Linked DNA regions of Homo sapiens. The protein of the gene in region 1 interacts with the protein of each later gene in a biochemical or structural test. Each region holds a gene or a part of one and is shown in the gene's direction. Other genes may lie near its edges.

Region 1 (7,848 bases):
TAAATTCTAGTTCCATCCTAGTTCAAGTTCTTGAGCACATTTATACACTTGGAAACGACACTAGATTAGAAGCTGGGGTTCCTCGGTTCTGGTTTAACTGCCATCATCTGCATGATTTTACTCACAACCATCTTACTTCGCTTTAGTTACTTTAATAATAAAATGAAATATACAATCTAAACTGTTTCCTCTGTTTTTAAAATACTGTGTATGGCTGGGTATGGTAGCTCATGCCTGTAATCCCAGAACTTTGGGAGGCTGAGCTGGGCAGATCACCTGAGCTCAGGAGTTTGAGACCAGCCTGGCCAATATGGCGAAACCCCGTCTCTACTAAAAATACAAAAATTAGCTGGGCATGATGGCAGGTGCCTGTAATCCCAGCTACTCAGGAGGCTGAAGCAAGAGAATTGCTTGAATCTGGGAGGCGAAGGTTGCAGTGAGCTAAGATCGTGCCACTGTACTCCAGCCTGGGTAACAGAGCAAGAATCCATTTCAAAAAAAAAAAAATTAAAGTAAAATAAAATAAATAAAACACTGTGTATGAATCCCAGCACTTTCGGAGGCTGAAGCAGGAGGATTGCTTGAGACCAGGATTTGGAGACCAGCCTGGGCAACATAGCAAGACCCCATCCCTAGTCTATTAAATAAAAAATACAAAATACTAAAATAAAATACTGTGGGCCAGGCTTGGTGGCTCACACCTGTAATCCTAGCACTTTGGGAGGCCGAGGCGAGAGCGGATGACCTGAGGGCAGGAGTTCGAGACCAGCCTGGCTAACATGGTGTAACCCCGTCTCCACTAAAAATACAAACATTAGCCAGGCTGGGTGACACATGCCTGTAGTCCCAGCTACATGGGAGGCTGAGGCAGGAGATTCACTTGAACCGGGGAGGCAGAGGTTGTACTGAACTGAGATTGCACCACTGCACTCCAGCCTGGGCGACAGAGCAAGACTCTGTCTCAAAAAAAAAAAAAAATACTGTGTATATTAGTGTTCCTTCTGTTGCAAACAATAAAACCGAACTCTGGACAACTTACTTTTTTTCTTGTCTTGCTTTATTGCCCAGGCTGGAGTGCAATGGTGAGATCTCGGCTCACTGCAACCTCCGCCTCCCAGGTTCAAATGATTCTCCTATCTCAGCCTCCCAAGTAGCTGGGATTACAGGTGTGAACCACCATGTCTGGCTAATTTTTGTATTTTTCGTAGAGATGGGGTTTCAGCATGTTGACAAGGCTGTTCTCGAATTCCTGACCTCAGGTGATCCGCCCACCTTGGCCTCCCAAAGTGCTGGGATTACAGGCGTGAGCCACTGTGCCCGGCCTCAAGGATAACTTACTTTTTTTTTTTTTTGAGACGGAGTTTCGCTCTTGTTGCCCAGGCTGGAGTGCAGTGGCACCATCTTGGCTCACTGCAACTTCTGTCTCCTGGGTTCAAGTGATTCTCCTGCCTCAGCCTCCCAAGTAGCTGGGATTACAGGCATGCGCCATCATGCCTGGCTAATTTTGTATTTTTAGTAGAGATGGGGTTTCTCCATGATGGTCAGGCTGGTCTCAAACTCCCGACCTCAGGTGATCGGCCCCCTTTAGCCTCCCAAAGTGCTGGGATTACAGGCGTGAGCCACCGCGCCCGGCTGACTTACTTTTTTTTTTTTTTTTTGAGATGCAGTGTTGCTCTGTCGCCCAGGCTGGAGTGCAGTGGCGCGATCTCCGCTCACTGCAAGCTCCGCCTCCTGGGTTCACGCCATTCTCCTGCCTCAGCCTCCCGAGTAGCTGGGACTACAGGCACCCGCCACCATGCCCGGCTAATTTTTTGTATTTTTAGTAGAGACGGGGTTTCACTGTGTTAGCCAGGATGGTCTCAATCTCCTGACCTCATGATCCACCCGCCTCGGCCTCCCAAAGTGCTGGGATTGCAAGCGTGAGCCACCGCACCCCGCCCGGCCGACTTACTTTTTAAAAGCTTCCTCTTCTATAGAGGAAGCCTCTCACTTAGAAGCCCAGCACTTTGCTACAGCAAGTTGTGTATCATTTCCCTGTTATTGTCTCCTCTTTAGATCTGTGAAGTCCTGGAACGCTCCCACTCTCCACCCCTGAAGCTGACCCCTGCCTCAAGTACCCACCCTAACCTCCATGCCTATCTTCAAGGCAACACCCAGGTCTCTCGAAAGAAACTTCTGCCCCTGCTCCAGGAAGCCCTGTCAGCATATTTTGACTCCATGAAGATCCCTTCAGGACAGCCTGAGACAGCAGATGTGTCCAGGGAGCAAGTGGACAAGGAATTGGACAGGGCAAGTAACTCCCTGATTTCTGGCCTGAGTCAAGATGAGGAGGACCCTCCGCTGCCCCCGACGCCCATGAACAGCTTGGTGGATGAGTGCCCTCTAGATCAGGGGCTGCCTAAACTCTCTGCTGAGGCCGTCTTCGAGAAGTGCAGTCAGATCTCACTGTCACAGTCTACCACAGCCTCCCTGTCCAAGAAGTGACTGTTGAGAGGCGAGGAGGTAGTGGGTGAGGCTACCTGACTCACTTCAAATGCATGTTTTGAGATGTTTGGAGATTCAGCAATTCTGTCTTCATTGCTCCAGGATCTGGTATACTGTTCTCATAAAACTGAGAGGAGAAAAAAAGTGAAAGAAAGCAGCTGCTTTAAGAATGGTTTTCCACCTTTTCCCCCTAATCTCTACCAATCAGACACATTTTATTATTTAAATCTGCACCTCTCTCTATTTTATTTGCCAGGGGCACGATGTGACATATCTGCAGTCCCAGCACAGTGGGACAAAAAGAATTTAGACCCCAAAAGTGTCCTCGGCATGGATCTTGAACAGAACCAGTATCTGTCATGGAACTGAACATTCATCGATGGTCTCCATGTATTCATTTATTCACTTGTTCATTCAAGTATTTATTGAATACCTGCCTCAAGCTAGAGAGAAAAGAGAGTGCGCTTTGGAAATTTATTCCAGTTTTCAGCCTACAGCAGATTATCAGCTCGGTGACTTTTCTTTCTGCCACCATTTAGGTGATGGTGTTTGATTCAGAGATGGCTGAATTTCTATTCTTAGCTTATTGTGACTGTTTCAGATCTAGTTTGGGAACAGATTAGAGGCCATTGTCTTCTGTCCTGATCAGGTGGCCTGGCTGTTTCTTTGGATCCCTCTGTCCCAGAGCCACCCAGAACCCTGACTCTTGAGAATCAAGAAAACACCCAGAAAGGCCTTAATGACCTCATAGGCACTCTTCCAAAAAGACAACAGAACTGGAATGAGAGGCCTGGGTCTGTCTCCTGCCTTAGCAGGCCTATCAATTTCTTGTCAATCTCTTTTTTTCCTTGCTCACATTAAAAGGAAGCATGGAGTTCTAATGCTCCCATAAACTATGTATTTTGGCAAGACACTTCACTACTCCAGGTCTCACTTTCCCCATCTGTAAAACAGGGTTTGGACTAGGTGTTCCCTGGTATTCTGTGATCTGCCTCTTGCTGCCATTCTTTCTCTCCTCTGCTTCTCTGTATTTTTCTTCTGTTATCCCTGGGGGTGCTCAGGTTCACTTGATTGTCTGTATTTCTGTGTGGTTGTAGCAAGGACTCAGCCTCATGTAGCACGAATAGGGGTGTGGTTCATGGCGTGTTGACCCAGCAGAGCACTCCCTCCCACTAACTTGTTCTGCATGTGTAGAGTCTCCCCATTTTTTTTAACGCAACCCTTTCCCCTTTTTCCTACCCCACAGCTCTGTTCCATGTAAGTTGCCAACAGTTTCACTGAACAGTGGGGTATGTGATGGTTTTGGCATGACATCTTCAGTATGAGGGGGACAGTTTGACTTCACTTTGAGGGTGTGATGTCTGTAGCTATGTGGAAGGTAAAAATAGTGGTGTGATCATGAACCAAAGGAATTTATGTTTTGTAACTTGGGTACTTTATTTTGCATTTTGTTATACTATTAAATAATTTTTTCCTGTTTGGGGGTCTTACTGTCTTTTTTTACAAGTGTATTCAGGCCTTTCTCTGTGATAGTTGTTTCAGTCTCCTCAAAATTGATCCCCCTTCTTCCTACTATACTTAATGTCTTCTTTCTGTTGACTCTTTTTGGGAATAAGGAGCAACAGGCTTCTGTCTCCCCTCATCCTCAGCCTCCCGTTCAACTTGTTTATTCTCCCAGAAACCTCCTTATAACATACTTCCGTTTCCCCAGTTTTCCTTATGCTTGAAAAGTAGATCCAAGATAACAGTCCTAGAAACACACACAATGGTTTCTTTTTCTTTTTTTTTTTTTTTTTGAGATGGAGTTTTGCTCTTTTTGCCCTGGCTGGAGTGCAATGGCACAATCTCAGCCCACTACAACCTCTGCCTCCCAGGTTCAAGCGATTCTCCTGCCTCAGCCTCCCAAGTAGCTGGGATTATAGGCATGTGTCACCACGCCCAGATAATTTTTTTTTTTTTTTTTTTTTTTTTTTTTTTTTGGATTTTTAGTAGAGATGGGGTTTCTCCACATTGGTCAGGCTGGTCTCAAACTCCCGACCTCAGGTGATCCGCCTGCCTTGGCCTCCCAAAGTGTTGGGATTACAGGTGTGAGCCACCACGCCCGGCCAGAAACACAACGGTTTCTACTGGTTTTTTTGCTTATTTGTGTAAAGAGCAACTTTGAGAGGGATATATGGAGTCTGGAAAGGAGAACAAATTGCCTTCCTAGACTCAACCGAGACTGGCCCCCACTAGAAAATGCACTCTCCTCCCCAAAACCCGCCCCCTCACAGGAGGCAGGGTTTTTCTTTTGGGCAAACCTGCTCCTGGGGAGAGGAGTGGCAAAACCTGTTTTGAAGATGAGGTTACCTCCCTTCCACACCTCCCTCCTTGGAGGCAAGAGCTACAACAGCTGAGACAGAAAAGAGGTAAGGAAGTGTTGGGGGCTGGGACAACCAGCTCCCCAACAACTCCTAGGTGTTTAAAGAAGGAGGCAGGAAGACTTGTGAAGATGGGAACTATACAAGAGGCAGGAAAAAAGACAGATGTTGGGTAAGTAAGATCTTGGCTCACTTGATTGGTAACAGTGAATAAACAGTCCGGAGAGACTTCCCCACCACCCAGCTCTTACTGGGTCAAATCTCGGGTTCCTCAAGGAGACAAGACTGTAAGAGAGTTTGCAGAGAAGAGATGAGGGTGGTTTTAGGTAGGAAATGTCAGTATGGTATGGAACTGGGGAACAGGATTCCAGGATAATTCCCTGGTTTAAAAATAAAGGAAGTTTCTGTAATATGTTGTACCTGATAAATCTGCCTGTGTTCTTTTATTTTCTAACCCTCACCCTCCAGAATGGCCATCAGGAAAGCTGAACCAGAACCGAGTTTAGGTCCAGGTTCTCGTTCTGGCAAATCTTTCTCCTTACCTTCTTCCTCCACCCCTCCACTTATGCCATGTTTTCCCTTAGCCACTCCCCAGCTCGGTGGAGGAAAGGCAGGCCTAACTAGGTACCGTCTTCCCGACTTTGCTCAATGATAGCTGGGTGGGTCTAGCTGGGTTCCAGCCACTTGTAATGTGGGACATCTCTCACCCCAACTTTGTAGGTGGAGCAACTGCTACAGAGGTAAATATGATTAACTTTACATTCCATCTTTCGTCTGCTCCCAAACTTAACAGCAGGTAATCTGCTTCTAGCAAGTGGTGAAGGTAAGAGAAGCATCTGTATAGGAGGCAAGAGATCTGAGTCCTTTTGAAGGCCTATCCTCTGCTCTGTATCTCAATTACTGTTCTTCATTTCAATTATTCTTACCTACTATTCAGTTCCCTTGATCTTTTCTTCTTGGGGGCTGTCTTAGGGTCAGGGAGATTGCAGAAGCACCAGAACTAGGAGCAGCCCTGAGACATGGGGAGTTGGAGCTGAAGGAGGAATGGCAGGATGAAGAATTCCCTAGGTGAGGACGTGTGAGGGTGGCTGGGAGAAGGGAGGGGTGGTCACGAATGGACGGAGGGGATGGCGCGGCGGCTCATGGCTGTAATCCCAGCACTTTGGGTGGCCGAGGCGGGTGGATCACCTGAGGTCAGGAGTTTGAGACCAGCCTGACCAACACGGTGAAATCCCGTCTCTACTAAAAATACAAAATTAGCCAGGTGTGGTGGCACATGCCTGTAATCCCAGCTACTCGGGAGGCTGAGGCAGGAGAATCACTTGAACCTGGGAGGCAGAGGTTGTAGTGAGCTGAGATTGTGCCATTACACCCGAGCTTGGGCAACAAGAGTGAAACTCTGTCTCAAAAAAAAAAAAAAAAAAAAAAAAAAAAAGCAAATGGACACAGGGATGGTGAATTAGGACTTGAAGGAAAAAAATGGGAAAAAGAAAACAGAGGCCGGGCGTGGTGGCTGATGCCTGTAATCCCAGCACTTTGGGAGGCCGAGGCAGGTGGATCACTTGAGCTCAGAAGTTCAAGACTACTCTGGGCAACATGGCATAACCCCATCTCTACAAAAATACAAAATTTAGCCAAGTGTGGTGGTGCACACCTGTAGGCCCAGCTACTCGGGAGGCTGAGGTGGGAGGACCGCTTGAACCCTGGAGGTAGAGGCTGCAGTGAGCTGTGATTGTGCCACTGCATTCCAGCCTGGGCAACAGAGTGAGACCCTGTCTCAAAAAAACAATTAAAAAAAAAAGCAGCATAGGTGATAAAATCATGGTGGGGAGAGAGAACCTATATATTGAGTCCTGGCTTGATGCCTTTGGTGTATATGTCTGCCGCCTTTTAATCTCTTCCCCTCTAGATTGCTTCCTGAGGAGGCTGGCACTTCTGAAGATCCTGAAGACCCTAAAGGAGATTCACAGGCAGGTAGGTCAAGTAGAAACCAGGCCTCAAGTTCTTGATTCTAGTCCAGTAAAGGGCTATGCCACCTCTATCCTTTTACAGTTCCATTTCCCCCTTTTCCCAAATCTCCCCTGCGTGAGTCCTTCTTCAGCATTCACCCCATATTATCACTTTCACATACAGGAATTCTAGCCCTCTCGGCTCTCCAACACACACACCCATCTTGGTTCTCTTTTTCCCCCTTTCTCCAGCTGCAGGTACCCCCAGCACTTTAGCCCTGTGTGGCCAGCGCCCCATGCGCAAGCGTCTTTCTGCCCCAGAGTTGCGGCTGAGTCTGACTAAGGGGCCTGGAAATGATGGAGCTTCACCCACCCAGTCTGCACCTTCCTCTCCTGATGGCAGTTCTGACCTGGAGATAGACGAATTGGAGACACCTTCAGACTCGGAGCAGCTGGACAGTGGACATGAATTTGAATGGGAAGGTGGGAAACAAACCAGAGGACTCAGCTGGTAGAAGTAGAGGCTAGAGCTAAAGGATCAGGATGGACTTAATGGGACTGCAGTTAGAACTAATAAGGTGGGACCAAGGGCTACGGCCAGCAAAATTAGTTTCCTCAAATGGAACTTGGGCTTATAGGTCCAATGTGAGAGTAGTCAGTAGAGGGGGAGGGGAGCCCATTGTTTATTAAGGAAAATTTAATTGAATGCCTGTTACATACTATCATGTATAGGACTGGGGTTATAAAGATGAATAAGAGAGGGCCTACAGGGAATTCTCTGCTTAGTAGGAAATAAACATATATAAAAATAATTGCAGTTAAAGGTTATGATCTATATATGTGTAGGGTACAGTGTAGACAGGGAGAAGGAAAAGGTCAGTTCTGCCTGAGAGATGTTAGGAAAGGCTTCATGAAGGAGATGATTCTGAGCTAAGTGTTGAAAACTGAAGCTGACATTTATCAGGTAGTTGGAGAGAGGGCATTCTAAGGAGAAGAAGCAGAAGCAACTCAAGCAATAGCATGGCATGTTGGGGAATTCAAAGTATGAGCATGAC
Region 2 (5,805 bases), on another chromosome or scaffold:
TTCTCTTGTATTTGTTCTCATCCTCTCCTTTCTTGGACCCTCTGAGTCTCTGGTTCCCTCTTGTTGGGACCCAGATCACTCTGTGCCTCAGCTGAATCATTTTTCCCTTCAGTTTACACATATCCACCTAGGGTCCACTACATCCAGAGGCTTCCGCCTCAGTCCTTGTCCTCAGGCTGTGCCCAGGGTTGTGAGGATGGCGGTGGTCCTTACCTTGCAAAACAGTCTCCCAGTGACAACAATGTTCAGGGATAACATCTATGGAGGGCTTTCTATGTATCAGGACCATTCTGAGTATCTTCCAAGTGTTAGCTCCTTTAATCCTGGAAAGGACCCCATGAAATTAGTACTTTTATTACCCCTGTTGTACATATGAGAGACTGAGTAAAAGCCGGTGGCTTGTCCAGGGTCACACAGCTAACTGGAATGGCCAGGAGTAGACCTGGTGACCATGGACCCCAGACCTTGATCACTGCACACGCTGCGTCTGGGACCTCGCCTGGTACCTGAGGTCCGTGGCGCGCTGGTGCTGATCATTCAGAGTGCTCATGGGAAGTGTAGTCTAGAGTCTGTGTGCTTCCTGATCTCCTTGATCTCCATTTTATTGAGGAGGCCTTTAGGCCACCCGAGGGGTCCAGAGTGACCCTGTGGATTAGCAGTGGAGCTCAGCTTGAGCCAGCGCTCTTCAGGGGTCGTGTTCTGCCCCCATTCTCTGGTTCATTCTGCAGGTAGCAGGGAATCATTGAAGATTAGAGAGAATCAAACACCTGGAGAGAGATGACTCTGCCCGGGGAGCCCAGGCTCCTGTCTGGGTGCACACTCCAGGGCTAGATGGTGACTTCTCAGCTACTCTAGCTTCATAGGCTCATAGTGCATGTGAGCACTCATGTGGACACACGTGCACGCGCACACACATGGACACACACACACACACACACACCGCTGTCTTTGGAATCAGACCATGAAAATGCTTCCTCAGAGGCCTAGGGGTGAGGAAGCTGAGGTGAGTTGTGCCTCCAGCTGGATGTGCTGGGATGGGGTGGGAGATGAGGTGGCCACACCTGGGTGGCAGGAACTCTGGGGCAGTGAACCTTCTAACGAACAGATCTGGGATGCTGCCATGAGGAGGAAGAGGGAGTCAGCAGCCATGCCTGCCAATGCCTCCTAGCGCATTTGTCCATGGTTAGCGGATAATTATTGTGTCCCTATGGGTCCCAAGGTGTATTATTTTTTTTTTGCTCTTATAATAAATCAACACAAATTTTTAGCAGCTTCAAACAACACGCATTTATTATCTCACAGTTTCTGTGGGTCAGTAGTCCGGCGTGACATGACTAGGTCTTCTGTGTAAGGACTCGCATGGCCAAAGTCAAGGTATCTGAAGGGACAAGGGAAAAATCCACTTCCAAGTTCAATCTGGTTGTGAGCAGAATTCAGTTCCTTGTGGTTGTACCATGAGGTCTCTGGTCCCCTTCATCTTCAAAGCCGGTAATGGACATCGAGTGTTTCTCTTGCTTGGAATCTGGCACTCTAGCTGGAGAAAATTATCTGCTTTTAAGAGTTCATGTGATTAGATTGGGTGTACCCAGATGCTCCATGCTAATCTCCCTATTATGCACAGATGCATAATCCTAATTGCATCTGTGAAGTGCTTTTTGCCAGGTAACATGGCATACTTGTAGGTTCCAGGGATTAGTGCTTGTCCTCCCCCTGCTATTCTTTAGTGGGCAGGGGGTCATCTGCCTACCACGGAGGTAAGGGGTCAGGAGGTATGCATACAGCAATGCCCAAAAAGAGACTGTCCCCACTGGGATGGAGTTTACCGCCTAGACATGCAGTCTTAACTCAGAAATATGGAGATAGCCTCGAAGGACAGGACAGGTACTGGGCACGTGTGGGAATGGACCAAGCCAGGTGCTCCGGGGGCTTTCCCAAGGAACTAAGGCTGAGCCAAGAACTGAAGGATGAGTTGGAGTCAGATGAGGGAAAATGTGGGCAAACTGGATTTCAGAACCAACCCCCAACCCTGGAGCCAGGAGCCATGGTACTGAAGGACAGTGCGCCATAACTCAGAGAACCAGGGAGGGTTGGCGGAGGCTCACAGGGACCGGGTTACCCCAGGGCCTTGTGACAGTACTACCCCTAGTATCAGAGGAGACTGTCATTGGCATTTAGGCCACTTGGTGCTCATAACACCTCTATGTCAGGTGAACACTATTGTCATCCCCAAATTACAGATGGGGAAAGTGAGCCAAATGTCCATGCTAGTAAGAGGCAAATCATATCACTTCTTTGGGTACCCTTCTAGAAGGATGAGGCTGACTGCCACTGGAAACAGCTGGGGAGGGTACAAGGAGATGACAAGTGGCTCAGAGGCTGTCCTGGCTATAAGAATTAAAGAGGAAAGAAACACCAAGGGTGGCTCGACAGTCAACAAGGACAGGTTTATTTTGGAAAACAAACTTGAGAGGGGCTTCTGGCCAAGTTAGGTCAGAGCCACACTCTCTTACAAACTAAGGATATTTAAGGGTTTTGGAGGGGGTTCTTATCATAGGTTCTGAATGTTTCTGTGTGAGGGAAAGTTTATTGCGGGGATGGAATGTCTCTGGTCAGAAGGGAGGCTGTCTCCGGGTTGGCATGTTTCTGGTCAGAGAAGGGTTTATCTTAGGGTTGGAATGTTTCTGGTTATGCTGACATTAGCTATTAGGCTGATATTTTCGGGCTGGATTTAGGCGGCTTTTAATTAAGGGGGAACTTAGAATGGTGGTGTTTGTTCAAGATGGCAATGCTCCTGCTCCGTCACTGGCCAGGTAAGGCAACCCTTTGTTATGGTAACAACCTGAGATTGGCAGGGGCTCACCTCCAGGGGCAGCTCATGTGCTTGCTGGCGAGGCTGCACCTTGTCATTCAGGTTCACAGGGCACAGGTCAACCAGGCCCTGGCTCTTCAGTCTTCTGCCTGGAGTGACTTATGTAATTCTGCTCAGCTTTCATAGGGCACAGGGAGTCGGGGCTAACTCTGCTGCCTGGGGCTGGAAACAGACTCCTCCCTTGAGGAGCAGCAGTCCACCATAGGGAAGTCACAGTGGTCCAGGCCAAAGGGGATGCAGGTAGTGTAGACTAGGCGGTAGTTCAGGGAATGGAGAGAAGTGGGAATAAAGGGATAGTGAAAGGAAGCATATTTTACTGGCAGGTGATGAGGTGTAGGAGGACAAGTCATACATTTGGACTTTACAGAGCAGTGGACACTCAGTCAGCTGCTGTCAGCGCCTGGGACTTAGGGGAGTGCCCCTGGCTGGAGACATGGTATGGAGTGCCATCAGTTAGGGAGCCCTGGGCACAGGTAAGAGAAGGTGTGACACCAGGAGGGAAAGAGTCTGGGGCCCAGCTGCAGGAACCAATACCCATAGGCTATTTGTATAAATGGGCCATGGGGCCTCCCAGCTGGAGGCTGGCTGGTGCCACGAGGGTCCCACAGGCATGGGTGTCCTTCCTATATCACATGGCCTTCACTGAGACTGGTATATGGATTGCACCTATCAGAGACCAAGGACAGGACCTCCCTGGAAATCTCTGAGGACCTGGCCTGTGATCCAGTTGCTGCCTTGTCCTCTTCCTGCTATGTCATGGCTTATCTTCTTTCACCCATTCATTCATTCATTCATTCAGCAGTATTAGTCAATGTCTCTTGTATGCCTGGCACCTGCTAGATGGTCCCCGAGTTTACCATTAGTGGAAAAGACATTTAAGAAATTCACCAAGGGCTCTATGAGAGGCCATACACGGTGGACCTGACTAGGGTGTGGCTTCCCTGAGGAGCTGAAGTTGCCCAGAGGCCCAGAGAAGGGGAGCTGAGCACGTTTGAACCACTGAACCTGCTCTGGACCTCGCCTCCTTCCCTTCGGTGCCTCCCAGCATCCTATCCTCTTTAAAGAGCAGGGGTTCAGGGAAGTTCCCTGGATGGTGATTCGCAGGGGCAGCTCCCCTCTCACCTGCCGCGATGACTACCCCGCCCCATCTCAAACACACAAGCTCACGCATGCGGGACTGGAGCCCTTGAGGACATGTGGCCCAAAGACAGGAGGTACAGGGGCTCAGTGCGTGCAGTGGAATGAACTGGGCTTCATCTCTGGAAGGGTAAGGGGCCATCTTCCGGGTTCACCGCCGCATCCCCACCCCCGGCACAGCGCCTCCTGGCGACTAACATCGGTGACTTAGTGAAAGGACTAAGAAAGACCCGAGGCGAGGCCGGAACAGGCCGATTTCTAGCCGCCAAGTGGAGAACAGGTTGGAGCGGTGCGCCGGGCTTAGCGGCGGTTGCTGGAGGAACGGGCGGAGTCGCCCAGGGTCCTGCCCTGCGGGGGTCGAGCCGAGGCAGGCGGTGACTTCCCCACTCGGGGCGGAGCCGCAGCCTCGCGGGGGCGGGGCCTGGCGCCGGCGGTGGCGTCACAAAAGGCGGGACCACAGTGGTGTCCGAGAAGTCAGGCACGTAGCTCAGCGGCGGCCGCGGCGCGTGCGTCTGTGCCTCTGCGCGGGTCTCCTGGTCCTTCTGCCATCATGCCGATGTTCATCGTAAACACCAACGTGCCCCGCGCCTCCGTGCCGGACGGGTTCCTCTCCGAGCTCACCCAGCAGCTGGCGCAGGCCACCGGCAAGCCCCCCCAGGTTTGCCGGGAGGGGACAGGAAGAGGGGGGTGCCCACCGGACGAGGGGTTCCGCGCTGGGAGCTGGGGAGGCGACTCCTGAACGGAGCTGGGGGGCGGGGCGGGGGGAGGACGGTGGCTCGGGCCCGAAGTGGACGTTCGGGGCCCGACGAGGTCGCTGGGGCGGGCTGACCGCGCCCTTTCCTCGCAGTACATCGCGGTGCACGTGGTCCCGGACCAGCTCATGGCCTTCGGCGGCTCCAGCGAGCCGTGCGCGCTCTGCAGCCTGCACAGCATCGGCAAGATCGGCGGCGCGCAGAACCGCTCCTACAGCAAGCTGCTGTGCGGCCTGCTGGCCGAGCGCCTGCGCATCAGCCCGGACAGGTACGCGGAGTCGCGGAGGGGCGGGGGAGGGGCGGCGGCGCGCGGCCAGGCCCGGGACTGAGCCACCCGCTGAGTCCGGCCTCCTCCCCCCGCAGGGTCTACATCAACTATTACGACATGAACGCGGCCAATGTGGGCTGGAACAACTCCACCTTCGCCTAAGAGCCGCAGGGACCCACGCTGTCTGCGCTGGCTCCACCCGGGAACCCGCCGCACGCTGTGTTCTAGGCCCGCCCACCCCAACCTTCTGGTGGGGAGAAATAAACGGTTTAGAGACTAGGAGTGCCTCGGGGTTCCTTGGCTTGCGGGAGGAATTGGTGCAGAGCCGGGATATTGGGGAGCGAGGTCGGGAACGGTGTTGGGGGCGGGGGTCAGGGCCGGGTTGCTCTCCTCCGAACCTGCTGTTCGGGAGCCCTTTTGTCCAGCCTGTCCCTCCTACGCTCCTAACAGAGGAGCCCCAGTGTCTTTCCATTCTATGGCGTACGAAGGGATGAGGAGAAGTTGGCACTCTGCCCTGGGCTGCAGACTCGGGATCTAAGGCGCTCTGCCCGCCGGAATCCGTTGTACCTAGGGCCACCACGTGGGGTGCTGGAGGTGAGCCGACCACGGAAGAGGGGGAGGAGGAGTTGGAGTTGGGAGGAGTCCGAGGTCTTCTAGGCCTAGACCTTTCTCTCAGCCCCACCTTCCCCAGCCTTCTTGTTGGGCAGAGGGTAGCCAGAGGACAGAAAGATCCCACCCAGAGCCACTCACTGCCATCCACTTTGTTAGGTGACTTCAGG

The links.
Region 2: the proteins of BNIPL (region 1) and MIF form a complex in vitro, tested with the Homo sapiens proteins (one study listed by BioGRID).

The regions. Positions count from the first base shown.
Region 1 is NC_000001.11:151,031,751-151,039,598, forward strand, and holds the start of BNIPL (bcl-2/adenovirus E1B 19 kDa-interacting protein 2-like protein), read left to right. Parts: upstream 1-4,835; 5' UTR 4,836-4,975; coding exon 4,976-5,016; intron 5,017-5,564; exon of another isoform or gene 5,565-5,816; coding exon 5,817-5,912; intron 5,913-5,995; exon of another isoform or gene 5,996-6,753; coding exon 6,754-6,818; intron 6,819-7,045; coding exon 7,046-7,276; intron 7,277-7,848. Other genes in the region: exopolyphosphatase PRUNE1, read left to right, coding at 2,056-2,484. UniProt on the Homo sapiens protein: May be a bridge molecule between BCL2 and ARHGAP1/CDC42 in promoting cell death.
Region 2 is NC_000022.11:23,889,919-23,895,723, forward strand, and holds MIF (macrophage migration inhibitory factor), read left to right. Parts: upstream 1-4,464; 5' UTR 4,465-4,556; coding exon 4,557-4,664; exon of another isoform or gene 4,665-4,853; coding exon 4,854-5,026; exon of another isoform or gene 5,027-5,121; coding exon 5,122-5,188; 3' UTR 5,189-5,305; downstream 5,306-5,805.